2 separate regions of the Homo sapiens genome follow, and region 2 is linked to region 1. The links come from fine-mapping of genetic effects on plasma protein levels. A gene starts in region 1. The other region holds a variant in brackets. All regions are shown on one strand. Distances are from middle to middle.

The links. PIP is the posterior inclusion probability: the model's chance that the variant is causal. Protein levels are from antibody-based Olink assays in UK Biobank. Linkage for the fine-mapping came from a reference panel and not from the study's own genotypes, which makes the PIPs less certain.
Region 2: its variant is fine-mapped to the plasma level of the FAM20A protein (UK Biobank, PIP above 0.99).

What each region holds. Positions count from the first base shown.
Region 1 is chr17:68,594,726-68,611,272 of GRCh38, reverse strand. It overlaps FAM20A (FAM20A golgi associated secretory pathway pseudokinase), which reads left to right and starts at 9,906. Exons shown (of 11, transcript NM_017565.4): 1 at 9,906-11,010. The coding sequence starts at 10,607.
Region 2 is chr17:68,533,581-68,541,895 of GRCh38, reverse strand. FAM20A (FAM20A golgi associated secretory pathway pseudokinase) reads left to right here. Exons shown (of 11, transcript NM_017565.4): 8 at 938-1,047; 9 at 1,930-2,011; 10 at 2,500-2,559; 11 at 4,155-6,780. The coding sequence ends at 4,419. It also overlaps a transcript of PRKAR1A not described here. Among named protein-coding and RNA genes, the nearest start is that of PRKAR1A, 25 kb to the right of the region's middle. The variant G/A (reference allele first, on the strand shown) is at 1,255.

The DNA of each region.
Region 1 (16,547 bases):
AATTCATATGTTAAATCCCCAATTTGATGGTATTAAGGGGTGGGGTCTTTGGGAGGTGTCTCAGTATTTTAGTGTTGCTATAAAGAAATACTTGAGGCTGGGTGGTTTATAAAGAAAAGAAGTTTATTTGGCTCACAGTTCTGCAGACTATACAAGAAGTATGGCACCAACATCTGCTTCTGGTGAGGGCTTCAGGTTGCTTCCACTCATGGCAGAAGGTGAAAAGGAGCCAGTGTGTACAGAGATTACATGGCCATAGAGAGGAAGCAAAAGAGAGAGGGGAGGGAGATGCCAGGCTCTTTTTTAACAACCAGCTCTCCCGGAAACTAATAGAATGAGAACAGTCTTCCTTACCCTCCCAGACATTAATATATTCATGAAGGATATGCTCCCATTACACAAACACCTCCCATTAGGCCCCACTTCCAACAATGGGGATAAAATTTCAACACAAGATTTGGAGGGGTCAAACATCCAAATCATATCAAGGGGTAATTAGAGTATGAGGATGGGGCCCTCATAAATGGGATTAGTGCCCTTATTAGGGGATGAAAGGACCAATGCTCACTCTTTCTTCAGTGTGTGAGGATACAATGAAAAAAGGGCTATCTGCAAACCAGGAAGAGTGTCCCCATCAGACACTGGATCTGCCAGCACCTTGATGTTGGAATTACCAGTCTCCAGTACTGTGAAAAATAAATTTCTTTTATTTAAGCCACCCAATCTATGGTATATTTGTTATAGCAGCAGACTGACTAAGACAGTATTCATTATTCTCATGCATGTTTTTATAATTTTACCAATTTTTTGTTTGTTTCTTTTTCAGAGACAGGGTCTCCAGGCACTGGAGTGCAGTTGCATGATCATAGCTCACTATAACTTCAAACTCCTGGGCTCAAGATATCCTCCTGCCTCAACCTCCCATGTAGCTAGGACTACAGATGAACACCATTGCACCTGACTAATTTTTAAAATTTTTTGTAGAGAGGGGTCCTATTATGTTGCCCAGGCTGGTCTCAAACTCCTGGCCTCAAGTGATCCTCTCTCCTTGGCCTCCCATAGTGCTGGAGTAATAGGTGTAAGCCACTGTGCCTGGCCTAGTTTGCCAGTTTTGAAGGTTATCTAAATAGTATCATACTGCTACACACACACACACACACACACACCCCATATTCATGTTTTCTTACAACTTAAAGATGTATCTTTGCTGAGAAAATACAGTTGTACTTCCTTCATTTTAACTGCTCATTACATAATAATACCACAATTTATTAACATATTTCCCTATAGATGGATGTTTACTTTTTTGTGCAATTATTTGCTATTATGAGCCAGGCTACAGGCAAAATTCTTTTGGATGGAGGTATGCAACCTTTGTTTTTTATTTTATTTTATTTTGTTTTAACATAATTGAACAATAGGGCCAATAAAGTTGCCCTTTTTTTAATGTACAGTTCTGTCAGTTTTAACACATGGATGGATTCACATGACCACCATCATGATAAGGATATAGAATAGTTCCATCACCCAAAACAACTTCCTAATGCTGTACCTTTGTAGTCATACCTTCATCACGGTCCCTAATGCCTGGCAGCCAATGATCTATTCTCTGTCACCATAGCTTTTCCATTTCTAGGCTATCATATAAATGTAATCATACAATATGTAACCTTTTGAGACTGGATTCTATCACTCAGCATAATGCCTTTGAGATGCATCAATGCTGTCATGTATACCCATATTTTGTTCTTTGTTGTTTCTAAGTAGTATTCCATTGTATGATGTACAACAGTTTATCTATTTGCCCACTGAAGGACATATGCACTACTTAATGTTGGCAATTATTAATAAAGCTGCTATAAAACTTTCATAAGTAGGTTTTTATGCACACATAAGTTTTCAATTCATTTGAGTAAATACCTAGCAGTGGATTACTGGGTCATGTGGTAAGTACATGTTTATGTTTTCAGATGTTTGGAGATTTACCAGATATCTCTCTGTCATTTATTTCCAGTCTATTTCTATTATGAGCAGAGAGCACAGTTTGTAAGATTTGATTATATTAAATTTAAATGCTTGTTTTATAATGGAGGATATAGTCCATCTTGGTAAATGTCATGTACACTTAAAAATAATGTGTATTAGGCTGCTTTTGAGTGAAGTGTCCTATGAATGTTAAATTAGATTTAGTTGGCCAATAGTATTTTTCAGTTCTTCTATATCCTTGCTGATATTCTGTCTACTTGCTCTGTGAGTGGCAGAAAAAGAAACACTAAAGTCTTTAGCTATAACTGTTGAATTTTCCCATTTATCCTTTCAGTTTTATCAGTTTTACTTCATGTACTTTGAAGCTGTATTGTTAGAGGCATACACATTTAGAATTATTATGACTTCTTGGTATATTGTCTTTTTGATTGCTACTTTGAGTAATACTAATATAATTATGCCAGATTCTTTTTAATTAGTGTTTGCCTGATATGTCATTTTCTATCCTTTTAAGTTACCAGTGGTCATATATACACCGGGTTTCTTGTAGGCAGCATAACATTGAGTTGTTTTTTAATTCATTCTGAAAATCTCTGTCTTTTAATTGGTGTGTCTAGGCCATTTATATTTAATATAATTATCAGTATGTTTGCATTTAGGGCTACCATTTTATAATTTGTTTTCTGTTTATTTCCTATATTTTTGTTCTTCTTTCCCCTTTTCTGCTTTCTTTTGTATGATTTGGGTAATTTTAGTGTTTCATTTTAATATATTTATTATTTTTATTATGTCTCTCAGTATAGTTTTTAATTTTATTATATCTCTTAGTACAGTATAGTATTATAATCTAGGAATTATAACATATATACTTAATGTTTCTCAGCTATTTGGAATTAATATTTTACCACTTCAAGTGGAATGCAGAGTTCTTACCAACAAACAAGTCCCTTTACCCTCTTCCCTTCGTATTGTAGTGGTCATACGTATTACGTCTCTGTATACTGAATCTCTATCAGATAATGCTATAATTTTTGTCTTCAATTATTAGGTATATTTTGTAAAACTTAAGATGAGAAAAAATAATCTGTTATATCTACCAATATTTTCACCATTTCTGTTGCCCTTCCTTCATTCCTGATGTTCCAGGTTTCCCTCTGGTGGCAGTTGCCTTCCATCTGAAATCTTTCTTTAGCATTTTTGTTAGAGCAGGTCTGCTGGTGATTGTTTCTTTTAGTTTTCTTTCATCTAAGAATGTCTTTACCTCATTTTCACTCCTGAAGGAACTCAATGCTGGAAGAGAACTTTGAAATTGTCTACCACAAAATAGTTATTTACACGTGAGGCAAAGGAAGCCCAGAGACATTAATTAATTTGTCCCATGCCACCAAACTAGTTAATGACTGAGCCAAGATTACAGTGTAAGCTCCCTAACTCCCAATCCAGTGCTCTTACTCTTCCTACAAAATGCCTTGGTTTGCTTTCTCAAGTATTTGGTTTATACTGGAAATAAAGTTGTGTGAAAAGGTCTAGATTAATATATGCTTAGTAGAAAAAAAAGTAAAATTCTCATTCTTTAGAGCTGAAAAGGACATTAAAGATCATTCACTTCAGCGTTTCATGTTTCAAATGAGGCAACTGAGATCCAGGGAAGGTAGTTCAGTTTCCCAGGGGAAATTTACCAATAAGTACAGCCATGACTTTTTATAGCAAGATCACACTACATACCCATCATTTGTAAAGAACAGGCACTTATTTGTTTATTTGTGTTCCCCAGTAGCAATGATGGGGAAACACGTACTCTCTGTCTCTCTCTCTTTAGCGCCTTAGAACCTTATGACACAAGTTGGATGGCCAATGTTAGACAATGGATCCTACCTAGCCTATTTGGAATCAAATCTGTGACTTTGCTCTCATTAGCACTGTCCTTTCAACCAGTGATTCCCAAACTTCAATGTGTGTCAGAATCTTATAAGCTGGTAAGAATCAGCTTATTGAAAATGTACATTCCTGGCCCCACCTCCAAAAAATACTAGAACTATGGTGTGGCCCTGGAATTTGCATTTTTATAAGCACATCAGGTACTTCTGATCCACAGGCTGCACTTTGAGAAATCTCTGGCTTATGCTGAGGCATTATGTGTTGGTCACGATTAGAAAATTTTGGACTTTCTACCTCAGAATAAGGTGTTGAGTGCAATACTAAATCAGTTTCAGTTTCTTAAGTTCACTCCATTCTAGGTCTTCCATTTATAGTAATTTCAATTGCATCTCTTGCTGATTACTGAGACAGCTAGCAGGTAAAGGTAACATTCCTCACATGCATCTATACTATAATAAAAACTGTGAGGGACATAGATGTCTACATTTAGTTATTTCTTTATGTGTCTCTTACTTATTGGTTTTTCAATAGGATCAAGGCAATTTCCATTGATGTTCTAAGTAAACATCTACTGGGGCCAGGCACAGTGGCTCATGTCTGTAATCCCAACACTTTGGGAGGCTGAAACAGGCAGATAGCTTGAGCTCAGGAGTTGGAAACCAGCCTGAGCAACATGGTGAAATCCCATCTCTACCAAAAAAAAAAAAATTAGCCAGGCCTGATGGCATGAGCCTGTAGTCCCAGCTACTCAGGAGGCTGACAGGTGGGAGGATCACTTGAGGTCAGGAGTTCAAGGCTGCCATGAGCCAGATCACACTCTGCCACCCTGCACACCAGCCTGGATGACAGAGAAAAACCCTGTCTAAAGAAAAAAAAAACCATAACGGATGTTTAACTTAACACTTATGTAGATGTTCTAACTTAACACTTATCTTGAGCTAGATTATATACATTTATGTTCTTATTTTAAGTGCTCTTTTCCAAACCACTTCCCACCTCCATGTATGAACACACATAAACCCACAAACATCATTTATTCTGCAGGAATTTGTTAATTCTCATTTGCATGCCTTGCTGTGTCTAAGATCCTATGAAGACAGGAAAATAAAAAAGAAAACATGTTACCCTTGAACTCATGGAGTTATAGTCTAGTATAGAAAACTGCCTACACAAACAAAAAACAACTAGTCAAGTTCTAAGCAACACGGGAACATGGGCAAGATAAAAATAGAGTCTAACCTTCACAGATAGAGGAACTTGGTGTTTAAATGTTGACTCTATTGTTTTCATGATTTAACTCCTGCAAGTAGAGAGCTTGATATTTAGCTAGACTGAAAGGAAACACAACTGCCCTTTGCATTTGCTCCTCTTAATGCATGCAATGGCACAGATTGCTAATCTGCTCTGTGTACTACCTCATACTTTTTTCCCATTGGCTTGTGAGTACAGGTATAGCTGGACTCTCTGATGATCACAAGACTCTTGAAGGCAGGAAGGAATTGTGTCATATATTTCTTTATGTCTCCTACAGGGTCCAAAGCTATGTCATCTTATTGTAAACAATAATTTAGCCCCTACTGTATACTAGGCCATATGCGAGATTCTACAGTTGTAGAGATGGCCAATATCTCTGCCTTCACTCAGCAAACATTTCTTGAGCATTTCTCAAATGATAGGCCCCATCCTCAGAGCTCTGTGTACATATATAAGTAGCATTCTCCCTCTACACTCAGGAGTAGTGCTCCAGTGAAGATGGCAGACATGTGTACTGTGTAAATTTGCAATGGCTGCTGTAACAAAGTGCCACAAGCTGGGTGGCTTAAGCAACAGAAATTTATTGTCTCACAGTTCTAGAATTATAAATCCAAGGTCAAGGTGTCAGTAGAGTTGGACTCTTCTGAGGGCTGTGAGGGACAAATTTGTTCCATGCCTCTTACCTAGCTTCTTGTGTTTGCTGGCAGTCTTTGGTATTCCTTGGCTTATAGAAGAATTGCCCAATCTGTCTTTTATCTTCATAGGGCATTCTCCCTGTATGCATGTCTCTGTGTCCCAATTTCTCCTTTTTATAAGGACACAAGTCATATTGCATTAAGGGTCCACTCTACACTAGTACGCTATCAGCTTAACTAATTATTTCTACAACAACCCTATTTCCAAATAAGGTAACGTCCTGAAGTATTGGAGGTTAGGATTTCAACAAGTGAATTTGAGAGCAGGATATAGTCAACCCATAACACATACTAAAAAGGAAACCCAACATGGCCAACGTTGTAATAGGGGAACATATGAGGAGCTGTGGGGGCACATGAGAGCACAAGGCACTGAGTTTAATGGGTATGAAGACAAGCATCAGAGAAAAATTGGACAAGTGGCCAAAGCTTGGGTGGACTAATGGGTGTTTTCCAGGTGGGGAAAGGAGAAAGAGCTTTCGGTTAAAGACACATCTGTGAGAGGTTGTGTGGGGAAAAGCAAGAGAGATCAGATTGTTACTGTGTCTGTGTAGAAAGAAGTAGACATAGGAGACTCCATTTTGTTATGTACTAAGAAAAATTCTTCTGCCTTGAGATTCTGTGACCTTACCCCCAACCCCGTGCTCTCTGAAACATGTGCTGTGTCAACTCAGAGTTGAATGGATTAAGGGCGGTGCAAGATGTGGTTTGTTAAACAGATGCTTGAAGGCAGCATGCTCCTTAAGAGTCATCACCACTTCCTAATCTCAAGTACCCAGGGACACAAAAACTGCGGAAGGCCGCAGGGACCTCTGCCTAGGAAAGCCAGGTATTGTCCAAGGTTTCTCCCCATGTGAGAGTCTGAAATATGGCCTCGTGGGAAGGGAAAGACCTGACCGTCCCCCAGCCCGACACCCGTAAAGGGTCTGTGCTGAGGAGGATTAGTAAAAGAGGAAGGAATGTCTCTTGCAGTTGAGACAAGAGGAAGGCATCTGTCTCCTGCCTGTCCCTGGGCAATGGAATGTCTCGGTATAAAACCCGATTGTATGCTCCATCTACTGAGATAGGGAAAAACCGCCTTAGGGCTGGAGGTGGGACCTGCAGGCAGCAATACTGCTTTGTAAAGCATTGAGATGTTTATGTGTATGCATATCTAAAAGCACAGCACTTAATCCTTTACATTGTCTATGATGCAAAGACCTTTGTTAACGTGTTTGTCTGCTGACCCTCTCCCCACAATTGTCTTGTGACCCTGACACATCCCCCTCTTCGAGAAACACCCACAAATGATCAATAAATACTAAGGGAACTCAGAGGCTGGGGGGATCCTCCATATGCTGAATGCTGGTTCCCCGGGTCCCCTTATTTCTTTCTCTATACTTTGTCTCTGTGTCTTTTTCTTTCCTAAGTCTCTCGTTCCACCTTATGAGAAACACCCACAGGTGTGGAGGGGCAACCCACCCCTACAAGGTTGGAGCACTTGGGAATTGCAGAAAGTCTTGTGGGGTGAAGACGAAAGAGGGGGCATATAAAGAAGAAAGGAGGTAGAAGCCAGACCACGAAGAGCTGTGTCACAATGAGTGACCTAATCCAGCAACAAGGAGAAGCTCAGGGGGTTTTCAGGAGGAGAATATCCTGGTTGCCTCTGCATACTAGAAGTCTCACTCTGGCAAGAGTGTGTGTGGGCACTGAACTAAGGTACCATGGAAGCAGAGGGACCAGTTAGAAGCCTATTTGCAAGTATGAGCAAGAGATTATGAGGCTCTAGATACATCAAGATCAGTAGAGATGGAAAAGGAGGGAGGGGCTTCCAATGAAAGATTTTAAACAGAATGATGGGTCCCAGCAAACAGCAATTTAGGATACCTTCAGTGTGAACGGAGAGGATGTATGTGAGGCTGGCAAGTAAGCCAGGGCCCAAGACATGGAAGATCGGAGGAGCAGGAGAAGGCTCATTTCTAGGAGGGGTAAAGGTAGATTAGAGGCAAACCTGAGGAAGCCAACATCCTATTGGCCAATCCTACTGGTAGGATTTCCACTCTCCTATCCAGCTTCATTCACACTTAATATCTAACTCCCACATGCAGTTCTGCACTTGACTGTGACCTTTAAAGGGCATGGAAAATATGTTTACATAATTTCCAAGCAAGTTACACTATTGTTCCCTAAATTGGGGCCAGAAAAAAAAGAGTCTACTAAGCGAGTATGACCCCATGGGTTGAGGAGAATTGAAGTCACAAGACCTGCAGTGTCACCACATCCACGTCCTTTGCCAGCCGAGAAAAATGCGCATCAGTTTGCCACACAGTTACTGCAGTTACATCACCACCATTCAATGCCTGACTTCTTCATTCGCTTGCCATGACATCTAATTAAACACATTAGAAGTTGCAACGTCTCTCAGAAATTGGAAATCAGTTAAAATTTAATTCCAGATAAAAAGGAGGAGGTTCTAGAACCCCTCAAAATGCCCACCATCATACCCAGAGGAGTGGAGTAGCTGGGAATAGTACCGTCTTGGGCTTTTTCACTTGGACTGGGCACTCAGGCCACAATGTTATGCCCCTGAAAGCAGGTTCCTTCCTGCTATCTTCCTTTTCCATCCTTTTCTATTTTTGTCCTAGCGATGAGCAGTCTCTAACCAAGCCTAGTGTACTACAGGAACTAATAAGTAATCATAATGATAGCAAACACATATTTCACACTTATTTAGGATGAGTTAGGAGCTCTTCTAAGTAATTTATACATAGTCAAGTGCCACATAACATTTTAGTCAATGCAACAGTGGTCCCATAAGATTACAATACTGTATTTTTACTGTATGTTTCCTATGTTTAGACACACAAGTACTCACCACTGTGTTACAACTCCCTACAGCATTCAGTAGTCGCATGCTGTACAGGTTTGTACCTAGGATCAACAGGCTATGCCATGTAGCCTCCGTGTGTAGTAGGCTGAACCATCTAGGTTTGTGTAAGTACACCCTGATGTTCACACACACAGGAAAATTGCCTAAGGATGCATTTCTCAGACGTGACACATAATTGTACTTCAATTCATTTAAGTCTCATAATAACCTTAGGAGGTAGGTTCCATCATTATCTTCATTTACATTTGAGGAGACTGCAAAGTCCCGAAGAAATCTTACACTGAACCACGGGGAAAAGAACTCTGGTCTGAACCCACAAGTCAAAGTATGTCTGAGGGTTCTCAATTCCAGCAAGGGAAGGGAGGGGGTTAAAGAGTAGAACTAACTTACATGGGAAGCTTTGCTGCCTGGGCAAGCAGCTTCTGGTGGATTTCCTGAAATTCAGCAGGGTGGGGCCGCCTCTCCAATCAGACTTCACTTTACTATACTATGGGGTCATTAAATAGAGGAGCCAGGAGTTCAGGACTCCCTCCCTCTTCTTCAAAAGGAAAACTGGGTGTGGGGAGGGTACATTACCTCACAGAATATTGGAGAAAGCCTAAATGTGTCCTCCAGTGATTCATTTGGGTGGACTACTTTCACACCAAGCTAAACTCAAAAGTTCGGAGTGGGGTCATCAGGGCCCCTCCCTCCCTGAGTGCAAGAAACATTTCCTCTTTTTAAAGTACAGGCAGAGTTGGAATCAAACTCCTTCCAAACAGGAAATCAGCAAGATTCTAGGTAAAACTGATACCTTACTTTTAAAGGTCAAGCTCTTTCCTTCACCAAGAGCGTGTTTCCTGAGCACCTACTATGTGCCAGGCATGTGGTAGGTAGTTGTTATGAATCTTGATGTGCCCTGCGCTCTGCAGGGGGGCGGAGGTGGAAGGGAACACAAAGAAAGAACAGATACCAACACTGCCACCCCCGCCTCCCCCCACCCCCCCCCACACACTCATTTGGCAAAGCTTACAGGAAAAAAAGGGTTTTAGGGGGCTTGTGGTGGTTTTTTTTTCCCTAAAAATAATAGAAATGGTAAAAAGAGGCTTCGGACCCCTCGCGTGAGTCCCTTAAAGTGACTGGATTGAGACCTGGGCAGGGAAAGTGGGAGGCCCGAGCGAGGGGGAGGGCGCAGGCAGTGGGTGGGTGACAAGGTGCAAGGGCAGCGCCGGCTTCGGATCGGGAGTTGGCCGTCAGCTGCGCCAGAGGCAGGTGCCAGCGGAGAGTGGGTGGGGGTGCCGGCGCCAGGCCAGGCTCGGGGAGGCCCCGCGCTACCTCTGCCTCTAGGAGTCCAGGCGCACAGACAAGCTCCCCGGAGCCGCTCCTGCTTCGCCAACTCCCCACTCGCGCCGCCCGTGCCAGCCGCCGGCACTGGCGTCTCCGCCGCCCGCAGGAGGAGTCGCGGGAGCACTAGCAGCCGCCGCCGAGCGACAGCATCCTCAGGAGAGACGCCCCGGGCTTTGCAGCCGGCGGCCTCCGTCCGCCCTCCGCGGTCGCCCCCCGCCCCGTCGCCCGTCCGCCCGCGGTGGCAGCCGGCGCCGGCGCCCCGGGGCCCTTCACCTGCCGCGAGCGTCCGGGCGGGCGGGCGCACGGGAGAAAAGGCGCAAGAAGCGGGCACCCCGGGAACCCCATTCCCTCGGCTCACTCGGCGCGGAGAAGCGACGCCCGCTGACTCCGAGAGCCCCGGTGCTCCGTGCACCTGGTCCCCAAGTTGAGGAGCGACACCCCTCCACAGGGGACTAGCCCGCGCGGGGAGCATTCCGGTCTCACTGACCCCGGCCCACCCGCGGGACTCCAGGCACCTCTTCTGCCCGCACCCCGCGACCCCTCCCGGGACCCCGGAGACAGCCGGCCTGCCCCCGGCGTCCCCCTTGGCCAGCACGCCATGCCGGGGCTGCGCCGGGACCGCCTACTGACTCTGCTGCTGCTGGGCGCGCTGCTCTCCGCCGACCTCTACTTCCACCTCTGGCCCCAAGTACAGCGCCAGCTGCGGCCTCGGGAGCGCCCGCGGGGGTGCCCGTGCACCGGCCGCGCCTCCTCCCTGGCGCGGGACTCGGCCGCAGCTGCCTCGGACCCCGGCACGATCGTGCACAACTTTTCCCGAACCGAGCCCCGGACTGAACCGGCTGGCGGCAGCCACAGCGGGTCGAGCTCCAAGTTGCAGGCCCTCTTCGCCCACCCGCTGTACAACGTCCCGGAGGAGCCGCCTCTCCTGGGAGCCGAGGACTCGCTCCTGGCCAGCCAGGAGGCGCTGCGGTATTACCGGAGGAAGGTGGCCCGCTGGAACAGGTGAGGACCCCGCCCGGGACGCGGGAGAGCGGGCGCTCTGGCCGGGGCCTCCCCGCGCCCCAGTCTCGAGTTTCCTGACGCCCCCGGCCCAGGGCTGCAGCGGCTCCACCCACGGCTCCAGCCCTGGCGCTGGGCTTAGAGTGTGTTCCCCACCCGAACCCCACCAGCTGTTGCAGACCTCACAGTCCAGTCCCGGAGTCAGATAGTACGAGGAAAAAGTTTCTATTGCAGCCGCACAGCGAAGAAACGCTCTCAGCCCCTTCCCCTTGAGCGCCTGGGTCGTCGTTGAGCCCCACTCCTGCTCCCTCGTCCACTCCCGCTCCCTCGTCCGCTCCCAAACCCCACTCTCTGTCCTGATGTGGAGGAAAGCTGCCGCTGGACTTCGGGTTTCCAGAATGAGGCCCCAAACAGGGTGACTCCAGAGCTAGTTGAAATTCAGCACTTAACTGTGCTCTTTGGGTAAACCTGGGCGCCTTCCAGAAAGCATGTTTCTCCCCAAAACCCAGTTCTTTCCCTTTCCTTATTCCTCTGCCCAGTTTCAGAGATCACAAGGGGGTCATCTGAGGCAGGAAGTAAATGGTCAGTTCTCTGCCGCAGCCACCCCATTGTTCACATTTAAAACGCGGCTTGGGCCCATCCAGCAAGTATTAGAACTTGAAGGCACTTTTATCGTCTTGTATGATCCTGGTGATTTGGACTGACTTGGATCTGCGGCTTGATGCTTCCACAGACGAGAAAAAAATCTTTCAGGGAATTTTTTAAACCCAAAGCAAAATACAGAGGAAAAAATATCAAATATATTTAGGATAAAATTAAGAATCTTTCTGGAAAAGGATGGGGGTGTTAGGGAAGGCAGCACGCTCATTACTGAGATCCCTTGCTAGTGGCAGGAAGCCTTCGTATGAGTTAAGGACTCTGTTTTGAAGTACAGAACTTGTCTAAATACCACTCACATGCAGAGTTCACTATCGCACCACACCCATCTCTTTACTTAATACAAGAGATTTCAAAGTAAGATGTCATCGGTGGTTTTATGGTCCCTCCAGAGGATGAGCAGACCATAAATCTCTCTTGAAACTCAGAGCTGGGCCAATTTAACTGTTTGCTCATTATTTTGTAATGCTGAGATTGAAGGGAGAAAAAAAAACCTTCAGAAATTTTTGCAAAGGAATAAGTTGAGTTGTTGGCTGAATCACTGTGGTGAATTTCAGTAGTAACTCTACGGCTCACATTTTATGTTAGAAAGAAAGTGATTCTCAATTCCACGTTAACTGTGTGCAGTAATAAAAGGCAGTTTGAGATTGCTTCTCAGACACTGTCATTTTCAATATTATCTTTATTTCGTCAATAACATGGAAGTCTGGCTTAGTGAACCAGGAAATTTTGCCCTTAGAAAAAGTATCTATATGTCTACTATGGATCTGAGAATGAGAGACTTTGGACAAAGTCACTTGCTTTTGTAAATGTGATCAGCATTCATTTAGTCACATTTCTGTGGTCTTAAACTTCCCGGTGTTACTTTGGACCCGAAGCAAAGTCCAGGGGAATATTATGGCAGAAAAGCAAAAATCTTTCTCACCAAACTGTTCTACAATCAGTTTTAAGCTTGATTTCTACACCATTATGTGTCAACAAAGACAAAAAAAACTCGCAAAAACACACATACTTTCTGACCAGAAATGATCTTGGTCATTTAACAGAAGATCAAGTGGGGGCTGGTGACCTTACTATATTCAGAGATCACAGAGTAGTTTTGTGTGGTTGCTCAAATGTGACATTTTCCCAAGTAAGGTTTGTGGGCCACAACAGGAGGACCCGCTGCACTTATAAATGTTAAAACTGGACCTCAGAGGCAGAGAACACTCTCCTTCCACCCAAACTGGATAGTAAATGTTAACATGAACATATTAATAAGCAGATGTGTTGTTACTTATATCAGGGTTAAAAATGAAACACAAGGCCGGGCAGGGTGGCTCACACCTGTAATCGCAACATTTTGGGAGGCAGAGGCAGAGGGAGGATCACTTGAGCCCAGGAGTTCAAGATGAGCTTGGGCAACATAGTAAGATGTCGTCTCAAAAAACAAACAAAAAAAATAGCCAGTGGTGACACATACCTGTAGTCCTAGTCACTTGAGGGACTGAGACAGAAGGATTGCTTGAGCCCAGAAGGTTGAGGCTGCAGTGAGCCATGACTGTGCCACTGCACTCCAGCTTAGGTGACAGTGAAACCTTGCCTCAGAAAAAAAAAAAAAAAAAACCATACAGAAGATTCATTAGCCAGGGTGAATTTGAGCCACACTCAGAGTTCTATTGTGAAAGGGAGTCACTCATTACCTTAAATGAGAGTGCTCCCTGCCAAATATGAGGATGTAGCAGTGCTGATGAAGACAGGGGGCCTGCCATTATGTGCAGGGTCGAGGACACCCCTAGATCCTAGCAGCAGACAAATAAATAGAATGGACAGCAGAGGAAGAAACAATGAAGGACCTTGCTAATTGTTTTTCTCTTCACAGACAAGCTCTCCTTGTTTGTAGCCCTGCCAATATTTAAAATCTAGTGATTTATAAACATATGAGGGCCAGGCACAGTGGCTCACACTGGTAATCCCAGCACTTTGGGAGGCTGAGGCAGGCAGATCACCTGAGGTCAGGCGTTCAAGACCAAACTGGTCAACATGGTGAAATCCCATCTCTATTAAAAATACAAAAATTAGTTGGGCATGGTGGTGGGCACCTGTAATCCCAGCTACTCAGGAGGCTGCGGCAGAAGAATCACTTGAACCCAGGAGGTGGAAGTTGCAGTCAGCAGAGATCGTGCCACTCTACTCCAGCCTGGGCAACACAGTGAGATTCCATCTCAAAAAAAAAAAATGTGGATGCCTCCATGCCAATACCTAACATGAAGTCCTATCCAAAATAATTGTATCAGCAAACTGTCCACCACACCAGGAGAAGTACAGAGAATAAAATAAGCCAAATCAGTGTTCTTCGCCACTTGCCCACAAGAGACCATTAGTCTGAGTGATTTTTTTTTTTTTTTGTAATTTTGACCATCATACTAATAAGAAATGGTATGAAGTCAGAAAGTATCCTTCCACAATTCAAGCTCATTACCAATAAGAGGTAGGTTATGGTGTGTCTCCCCACCTCCCCACTCACCCACACGTTCCTTTTTGATTTCACACAATGGAAGATGACATTTGTGCAGTTTTGAATGTCTTGGGTTTTTAATTAATATTTGTTCACTGGATGTCAACATTTAGACATGTAGTTAAGTTACAAATGGGAAGATGTGTTGATTTTTAAGGTGGGCTGTCTGTGTGCTATCTGGCCCTGAAGCTTTCTGCAAACCTCCTTCACTCACTGTTCTTCCCTCCCTTCCTTTCTTTTCCCCCCAAAAATGTAACTAAGTGTGGCACAATCCAAGTTAAAAATGTAATTAGGGAAAGTGTTTCTGTCAGGTGGTCAGCTGCTGATCACAGCCAGCCAGCCAACGCCAGGCTCCATCAAGCATGATGACACATTTGGCACCTGTATTGAACAGTGACGAGGAAAGTGCACAGGGAAGAAGGGAAATGAAGTCTTCACTTTCAGGCCATACACTAACAAGCCAGAATTGTGCTGCTCTTAGTCCTTTGCTTGAATAAGTGATGACGCAGGGCAGGCAGGCTTTACCTGGAGCACAGGTGATGGTTCACACTGTTGCTCGCCTTTGCATTCTTAGATACTGAGCTTTGGATTTCTTCTCTGGCCCACAAGCTGCCCAAGTCAGACAACATCTGTCTTTTGACGTGTCAAACTGATCAGCTTGGCCAGTTTTGCCCACATATGATTGGCCTTTTGGCCACATATCTTTGGTCAGTCTCTCTGTAACCCTCTGGTCTCGACAGGCAAGGTCAAACAGGGTCAGCTCTCCCTAATGTAGAAACCCCAGCAGCTATAACACAAATATGAGTTTTTGCTTTTCTTTCTTGACATCTTCCTCAGATGTCAGGAAGGTTATATTGTCTTGCAATTACAGATTCAGCATTTCTTAGGGGTGTGTGTGTGTGTGTGTGTGGTTTCCCACATCAGAAACTCCTGTCTTCTTCACCCCTCCTCCTACCTATTGCTGTCACTGAAAGAAAACCTAGTCCTGGGTCTCTCTTTGAAAATCACCGCAAAGAGACTGGGCAGCTTTTCAAAAATGACAGTTGGTCAAAGGGAGTAAGTTGGCTGAAGTTTTTCTGGGGGATGCTTTGAGAAGATCCAGAAGCCAAGGCAGATAGAGGAGAAGGGTGGAGAAGAAGTCAGGAGAGATGAAAAGGAATTCAGCTAGAAATAAGAATTGCCTCGTCTAGGAGCTTGGGGAAGATAAGCTCCTCCCTGCCCCAGCTCCCCCATGGCATCTGTGGAAGGAAAAATACAATCTCTCCATTCTCACTCCCATCTTTTTATCTCTGTCCTGCTTATTTTGTGCCTGCCCTAGAACGCTCTGAACCTAGATTTCTTGTGAGCAGGCAATTCAACCCGCAGGCTGGATGAAAGTCCAGGTTCTTACTCATGGATGGTGGCCATTTGCTTCTCTCCCAGAGTCAACAGGGCCTTGGCCCCTTGTTAGATTCTCCCGCCAACAATGCTAAGCTAAGACAGGAAGTGGCCTCCTGTGATTTGGAAATGGACCTCAACCACGGCCCGTGTGTGGTTAGCAGAGAGAGTGGGGAGCCTGACTTCCATTTCCCATTTCTCCCAATTAGAGCCTTGCTGGACTAGTTTTGGAAAAGATATTATTTTAGTGGTTTCCAAATCCCTGAACTTGTAGTTGGAGGAAACCTCTCCACTCCTCTCAGAATCAAAAGCTTCAAGCAGATGGTTTCTGAGAGGGCTGGTCCAGACGGCCATTATCAGGTTTTTTCTCCCTCATTCCAAAGCCTGTCCTCACTGCTGTTGCCACAGCAAAAACCTAAATCAGGGAGAGCATCAGTGTCATTCATCCAAGAAAGACAGGCACTTCCTGCTTCCAAATAGATCAAAATGAAGCCCTTCAGCTGAGAACCAGAGGCTGTTCCATTGTTCCTAACAACACTCTTCTTTCACCACAACCAAGTTCTCATCAATCCTGAGAACCCAAGTGGCTAATTTTTTGCATGCAAATGCTCCTACCTAAAACATGCTTGTTATGTGCCAGGCACATTACATACACTTATTTTAAGCCTCATAACCTCTGTAGAAATAGGTGCATGTGGTAGATGGAATTCCAAGACAGCCTTCCAAGATTTCCAGCCCTGGCATACACACCTCTCCTAGTTGTTCAGCCCACTGCTAATATGGGTACTGCTATAAAGGGATTTTACAGATGTAATTAAGGCCCCGTACCAGTTACCCTTGGGATATGGAGATTATCTGGTTAGCGTGACCTAATCCATGAATGATTTAAAGCAGAGAGTTTTCTTGGGCTGATCACAGGAGAGGAAGTGAGATTCAAAGCAGAATAAGGATTTGATGAGCCATTGCTGATTGAAGATGGAGGGGCCATGTGGCAAGGGATAGGAGCAAT
Region 2 (8,315 bases), 65 kb after region 1:
CTGAAAAGCTGCCTCAATACTCCTTTGCCCCATTTCATATTGATCCTGGGATCAGCAGGCCTGGGTCTGTTCTCCCCTTTAGTTCATTTATTCAGTTCTAAAGAACCTTCCATATACCCAACACTAGGTGTTATGGGATACAGAAATGGAAGACTCAGACTCTCTCCTTGAGAAGCTCCTTGGTCTAGTGGGGAGAACAGACATGTAGCCAGATCACGAAAACACAGCACAGCACTTGCTATAACCAGGGAGCACACGAGAATCCCATGGGAGGGACACCTGGTTCCCGAGCAAGCCCTGGGAGACCAAGGACCTCACTGCTGTATCCCCAGGACCTAGCACCCTCCCTGGCACATAGCAGGTACTCCACACTAGCTGACTGAGTGAATCGATCCATCAGTCAAGCCGTCATGATCATCGTGGGAAAAGAAGTAACCAGGCAGAATTTCTGGAGGACATGACAGATCCTAAGGGACTCTGTGAAGGCTGAGAAGAGCCCTCGGATGAAAATGGGCATCGGAGCATTGTAGGCAGAAAACCATGTGTGAGAGAGAAAGGGCAGGAACAGCCCATGGAGGTGCTATGAGTGGCGCAGGGTCCAAGAGGCTTGGTGAGAGGGACTGTGGAGGGACGAGGAAGCAGGTGAGGGTCACTACCTCCTCCTTTCCTGCCTGCCCCGGCCTCTCCCCTCTGGCACACAGTATCCCAACCATGGGTTTAGTGTCCACCAGACTTAAAGGACCCAGGACCTTCTCACCACACGGAATATGCAGCCTTACGCGTCCTTGCCCAGGGCCTTTCTGAATTTTAGAAGCTGCCACCAGCCCAGGGCAGGATCAGGGAGGCAGGGATTGGGGGGGCAGGGGGAGGTGTGGGGAGACCCCCGACACCCTGCCATCTTGGCTTTTCCAGCCCCAGGACTTCTTCTCCCCCTCAGGTGGGAGGTCAATCCCCTTTACTGTGACACAGTGAAACAGATCTACCCGTACAACAACAGCCAGCGGCTCCTCAATGTCATCGACATGGCCATCTTCGACTTCTTGATAGGTAGGTCCCCACACGCAGGCCCCCAGCAGAAGTGGGCTCTGCTATGTGGCTAGGGTTCCCCGTGACCTTGAGCACAAACTTACAACCTGGTTCATGAGGACTGAGTAACTCTGCACCTCCCACAGCCTCAGAAGTGGCGGAGGTCCCAGAGGACAGAAGGTAACAGGCTCCCCTCTCTTCAAAGAACTGGAAGAAGCTCAAGGGGTC[G/A]TCACTCATAAGGCAGGCATCTCACCCTGCCACGGGCCTGAGTGGGCGTCAGATTGGAAGCTGTATGTTCACTTCACCAAGTGAGGGGAAACCAGGTAGGAAGGGAAGAAAGTACACAAATATGTAGCAGGGAGGGCCTCAGGCGAGGCCACGGACACACAAGACTAGTAATTCCACCTTCCAGGCCCACAGGGACTTCTAGGGAGACGAGACACTTATGAAGGTGGCCGTCATACAGGAGCTTAGGTCGGAAGCAAGTCAGACAGCTGGCTCATCATCGTGCCTTTCAGGAAGTTTAGCTGTGTCTGTTTACTATAACCAGGATCAGCTGAGGATCTCTGGGCTGAGGAAAGCCAATGTCAATACATACACGAGGTGAAAAGATGACTTTCTGCACATTCAAATCTCTGGCCAAAGGCTGGAGTAGGGGCAGGGGCAGGGGTGAAAGCCTTAGACTTGAAGCCAGTCCATTTAGGGTTTGCTTGTTTCGCTTCCTTCTCCCTCCTGCGGCTGCTTCACTGATGGCCCTGAGGAAATGACAGTGTGAGGCCCAGCTTCGTTCACACCCCTGTCTCTCAAGTGATGACAGGCCTCCGTTCCCTGGAGAGAACTCAGGTCAGGAGCACCTGTCCCCCTGGCCTGCTGGTTCCAGCTAAGTCCTCCCCTCCTTCACAGGGAATATGGACCGGCACCATTATGAGATGTTCACCAAGTTCGGGGATGATGGGTTCCTTATTCACCTTGACAACGCCAGAGGGTGAGCTTCCCCACGTGTGTTCAACAATCCCCTCTCCCAGATGTGCTGCTCTGTGCAGCCAGCTGCTCGGGGGAAACAGACGCCCTGCAAATGAGGGCCTCCACCACCACGTGCCTTGTCTCCTTCGAGCCCGGCTTCTTCCATTTCCTTCTTTCTCTTTACCTTTGCAAGAACCACTTGATCCTCCTCCAGCCTGAGAGCACTCGTGTGCCCTCTAGTGAAATAGGGTGAGGTTTTCGAGAGCAAGGTGCATCCTCAGTGGCTGGCCCTCTGCAGCTAGTGAATGAATGAAGGATTGCTTAGCTCTAACATCTCTGTACAGATGCTTTTGTGATCTGACTGGGGAGAGGGGCTGGAGAGGCAGCTGCCATGATCCCTGGCATTTTACCCCAATCTCTGATTCACAAAATGCTGAGAGGAGAGAGGAAGCCTCAGGGGAATGCAAAGGATGCTGCCGGCCACCCATAAAAGCCTGTTTCTCCTCCTAGGTTCGGACGACACTCCCATGATGAAATCTCCATCCTCTCGCCTCTCTCCCAGTGCTGCATGTAAGTTTTCCTGCAGCAGATAATACGGGCAAGTAACAGTTGTGACCCTTCATGCTGCTTGCAGCCAAGGTCTGAAGGGCTTCCAGTTTTCACTGGTCCAGGACGTAAGTGGGTAGAATGACATGAATCACCTTATTTCCTACACATTTGTGCACTGCATGACATCTCAGCCAATGACAGACTGCATATATGACGGTGGTCTCATAAGATTAATAATATGGTATTTTTACTGCATTTTACAGTTTTACTATCTTTTCTATGTTTATATACACAGCTATCCACCACTGTGTTGTAAAGGTTTTGTAGCCTACAAGCAGTTATCATATAGCCTAAGAGTGCAGGAGGCTACACCATCTAGGTTTGTGTGAGTACACTCTCTGATGTTCACACCGTGACAAAACCTGCGCTTAAGGATACATTTCTCAGAACATATCCCCATCACTAAGCGATTCATGACTGTACTACAACTATCAAAATTTCCCCCACAACGTTTTGTCTTTTTCATCCTTCCACATAGGATGAATTAGGATTTAATCCTTTAAACCTTTCAATTGCCAACTTTAATCGTTGACCCACTCAGATAATCACCTATTTTTGCAGTCTGCTGGGTTTTGATATTACTAATCAGACCTCTGCTTTGCCCAGCATTCATATCGGCTCATAAATATTACTACTTGATCACCATCTAAGCAAAACCCTGATTAAAGTCCTGTAAACCTGTGCAGACTGGAAGAAGGCACGAAGGCCCTTGCTTGGCCACCATTTCTCTAGAGAATGTCTAACTTACTTCCACACTTCTCCAGTGTTTCAGCCAGGCTTGTAAAATTGACCACCTGCTCAGCTGCAGTATGCAGAGCTAATTATAAATATGATATTCACACCTAGCAAAAACATCTCATTTGTTTCCAGCTGGAAAACTCGGAGTAGAGCATGAGTATTCCTCATCTATGTCTTAGGTTAATTTAAACATGCTTCCCTCTGGCCTCCCTTCCCTGCCTCCAGAGCAGGACTGGATGAGCAGTACCTGTTTTTGACAAAAGTCAATTAAGCTGCTTACACATCAGAGTCCAAGTCAGATTCCCACATAAAAAGAAACTGAAATCCTAAAGATGGGTCCTACCACATTTTCATCTCTGTGATTTTAAAATCTGACAAACAGAAATAAAGTTAGCAAGAAACAACTTAAAGGCTGGCAGTACTGGGGGATTTTGAGACAGCAAATAGCTCATCAATTCACCTACTAGAAACTTCTCCCATTAGCTTTAAATCTCCTTGAAAAATCCTAAGTATCACTTTGGTTTTGATTCCCTTAGCGTTGTCAGAGAAAATGCATATAGCCCAGCATCACCATTATTAGAGCACAAATGGCTATGCAGGCTCTTGACCAAATCGCAATTGGGCAAAGGACTGCAGGATACTGGATTTTGCCTTTCATTTGTTCCCTTTTTACCTGGTTTCCATTAAAATGTGCCTGAGAAGACACAAGGAGAGGCGCCAAGAGTATCAGCTACAACAGCTGTTTGTGGGGAAAGAAGTTCAGGCAAGTTATTTTCTTTACATTTGCTTATTTGGTTCCTGTAACTTTGTCTTTTCAGGATAAAAAAGAAAACACTTTTGCACCTGCAGCTGCTGGCCCAAGCTGACTACAGACTCAGCGATGTGATGCGAGAATCACTGCTGGAAGACCAGCTCAGCCCTGTCCTCACTGAACCCCACCTCCTTGCCCTGGATCGAAGGCTCCAAACCATCCTAAGGACAGTGGAGGGGTGCATAGTGGCCCATGGACAGCAGAGTGTCATAGTCGACGGCCCAGTGGAACAGTTGGCCCCAGACTCTGGCCAGGCTAACTTGACAAGCTAAGGGCTGGCAGAGTCCAGTTTCAGAAAATACGCCTGGAGCCAGAGCAGTCGACTCGAGTGCCGACCCTGCGTCCTCACTCCCACCTGTTACTGCTGGGAGTCAAGTCAGCTAGGAAGGAAGCAGGACATTTTCTCAAACAGCAAGTGGGGCCCATGGAACTGAATCTTTACTCCTTGGTGCACCGCTTCTGTCGTGCGTTGCCTTGCTCCGTTTTTCCCAAAAAGCACTGGCTTCATCAAGGCCACCGACGATCTCCTGAGTGCACTGGGAAATCTGGGTATAGGTCAGGCTTGGCAGCCTTGATCCCAGGAGAGTACTAATGGTAACAAGTCAAATAAAAGGACATCAAGTGGATACCTGACTTCTCAGGATCCTTATTCTAGCTACAAGTCAAAGATAACTCCTGGTCCAGACAAAACACCTGGCCTATCACAAGCTGACTAAAAATCTGCACTTTGGGCCAGCGCAGGCAACAGTAACTCTGACAGGTTCAAATTAGACCTCACACTTTCTACTCATATTCTAGTCACTGGACCCATCTGAATCAGTAATCCCTACTGCCCGGTCCTGGAGTAACTTCTTAGAGATATTATAACAAGTGGCAAAAATAAAAGAGGGATTTGCTAAGAATATCAGAAAAGGAGTGTTCCAATTTGAAGAGTATTACAATTGAAATAACATCAAATATGTCACACTAAGCAGCCAGTAACAGAATAAATAATTACAACGAAGGAAAAAAAAAGGAAAGTCCTCCAAGGTCAGGATGGCATGGGAACAGGCCTAGCAGGGACACAAGCCTGGAGTAAGGCAGGAAAAGAGCCAAGGCTGACTACAGCCCACCAACCACAATCTTCTTCCCTAAGACCCCAGGATTGTCCCCGGCCCATCCCCAAAAGAAGAAAGGGGCTATGTGGAAAGGTGAGGCCCTCTAGATGCCCCTCCCTGTGACGGCTGGCTCAAAAAAGACTAAGTCAGGTTTTTTATTGAAGCCTCCCTTAGAAGAAAGTGTAGTAGGGATTCCTTGTCTCCTCTACCTTCTCCCTGACTTGTTGATATCTGAAACTCCTTTTAATAGGAGGCTTTGTTTCTTATTCCATAATTAATGACCGAAAACACAAAGGACAGTAAGGTCTTCATTCCATGGAGTGACTAGTCAGTCAACAAAAGTAAAAATGCCTCATTTCATCAAATCAACTTTTCCAGTAAAGGCCAGAGTTCAAATACTGTAAGCATGAGAATAGAATGGAGCTGTCACTAAAGAGAGTACAAGGTCAAGAACCAGAAATGTCTCCAAGCTTTCTGCAGTGTGAGCAAAGATAGCCTCGACTGGACAAATAACACTTCTGACCCCGTGGTACCCCCACATGACTGGTATGCTGCCCCTGGACTTTGTGTCTCTCTAAAATCACTACCATTCACTGAGATCTGACCAGGTGAGGCACTCACCAACGCTACAGAAGCAACACACAGGTTTCCAATCCTCTCAAACACAGATACAACCCCCATCCTCCAATGTGCATGGAAGAACTTTAAATCTCAGAGAGAGTAAGCAAAATCACACAATTTAGTGGTTTAGACCTATTCCAAAGTCTTCTTTTCACTGTAACACAAAACCCAACAGTATCCCACCCAATTTATGAAGTCAAATTTGTTTGCTTAAAAAAAAAATCAGCTGGGCATGGGCTCACACCTGTAATCCCAGCACTTTGGGCCTAAACAGGCAGATCGCTTGGTCTCAGGAGCTCGAGACCAGCCTGGGTAACATGACAAAACCCTGTCTCTACAAAAAAATACAAAAAAAAAAAAATTTTTTTTTAAATCAACTCTTTAACAGAGAAACCTTAATCCCAAAGATTTCCTTAACTGTTGTGGCCCTACTGCAGCATAGGGCTCCCCACTTCATTCACTGTCTCTCCTGCTTCAAGATGTTTCTTCCCTGTGGATGAAGAACCAGGAGATCACACACAGAAATGGGAAAATATCTGGGTAAAAACATTCAAAGAATAGCACAAAATGGTTTGGGACTTCCAAATAAGACTCTCAGGAAAGCAGGCTACAGCTCTACCTCAAAACCCGCCACCTCCTATAACGAAGGACTGGTTTTCCAATGGCCTATATACACATTTTGCTGCACTCTACAAACAGAAAGCAATAGGCTTGAATTTCACCATGATATGTGGTACACCTACCTTATTATTCACTTATCTTTCAACCTTCCATTACTTTTTGATTAGTAACAAAATTAAGACTCATTTCTCAAAAATATCAGAAAACCAACCGTTTCATTCTTACTCGAGTTCTTCCAGCATGTTCATTTTGAACTGTTTACCTCCCATGAAATAAAAAGTCTCTTGACTCTGAGAACTTTTCAAGTTACTACTGACAGCAAACTAAAAAATGAACGGGAACTGTACTGATGGAAAGAGGCATTTGGAAGAATTCGTTTTAGCCTTCTCAAAAGCCAGGAAGACAATATGAGTTTGAATATTACAAAAAAATTAGTCATTCTCTTACGAGTTAGTTTTATGTTCCATAAAGTCACCACAAACACTGCATTGGCAAATACTGAACATTGCTCCTAGGGGAAATACAGGGTTAGGTTGCTGGGAGTCTCTAGTTACATTTTTATTGACCGATCAATACATAATCTTGCTGTGTGCGTGTTTTATGTTAACGCATGTTTAAGACACTTTATTTAATATATACTGATTCATTAACATTGTACTCATGGCAAACAGCACTGTAACCCAGACCTAAAAGAAACATCCAATATACATATTTTCTACATATGGCACAACACAGCCTTCTTTCACTTAGGAACACTAGTCAGCACTTCATCACTACACTTAGGGGCTTTTAATAGTGAAATCACCAACAACAAAAAAAATACAAAAATGCAAAAAAAAAAAAAAAAAAGGCACTAAAAAGACCCAAGAAAAGGACACTTATTCACAGTATGAAAGATGAGCATCCCTTTGTTCCACCTCAGTTGGGAACATGTGTGTTGGGAGGCTCAAACTTTTCACTTCCCAGCTCATGTCTGCAAAAGCCCTGTGACTATTGATTTTGGGGTTACAAATAAAGTTTAGCAAGTAGGTAAATTACAAATACAGAATCCATGAATGATAAGGATCAACAGTTAACTCATTTGAGATTAACGAAGATTAAAAAAAGCCCACCATCTAGTGGCAACCTTTAAAATCACACAGCTACTTAAGCAAAATTGGCAGAACTTTCACAAAATGAAAAAATCTTACTCAGTGGTTTTGGTTTTAGGTGTAGTCCAGATGAAGTCACAGCTCTGAACTTATGTCAAGAAACAAATGTTAGCGGTACATGTACATAACAATGCTGCTTTCTATGTAAAAATCACATAGCATAGGAAGGAAGAGATTTAAGAAATTCACATAGCTACAGCGTTTACTGATAGCTATTATAATAATACCTTTGGGAGACGGGCACGCTGGCTCACACCTGTAATGCTAGCACTTTGGGAGGCTAAGGTGGGCAAACTGAGCTTAGGAGTTCGAGACCAGCCTAGGCTACATGGCAAAACCCCACCTCTACTAAAAATACAAAAAACTAGCTGGGTGTGATGGCACACATCTGTAGTCCCAGCTATTCCAGAGGCTGAGGTACAAGAATCACTTGAATCTGGGAAGCAGAGAGGCTGCAGTGATCATGCCACTTCACTCTAGCCTGGGTGACAGAGTGAGACCATCTTAGATAGACAGATCGATAAATAGACAAATAGACAGATAAAAACGTACCTTTGGGGACAAATTAAATGGTTATCTAGCCATTGCTTCTTGATGTTGTCTTAGCCCATCTAAACATACACTGCCAGGGCCTAACATAAGTACAAAAGGTTCAGCTATTATTTGTGGTTAGAGATA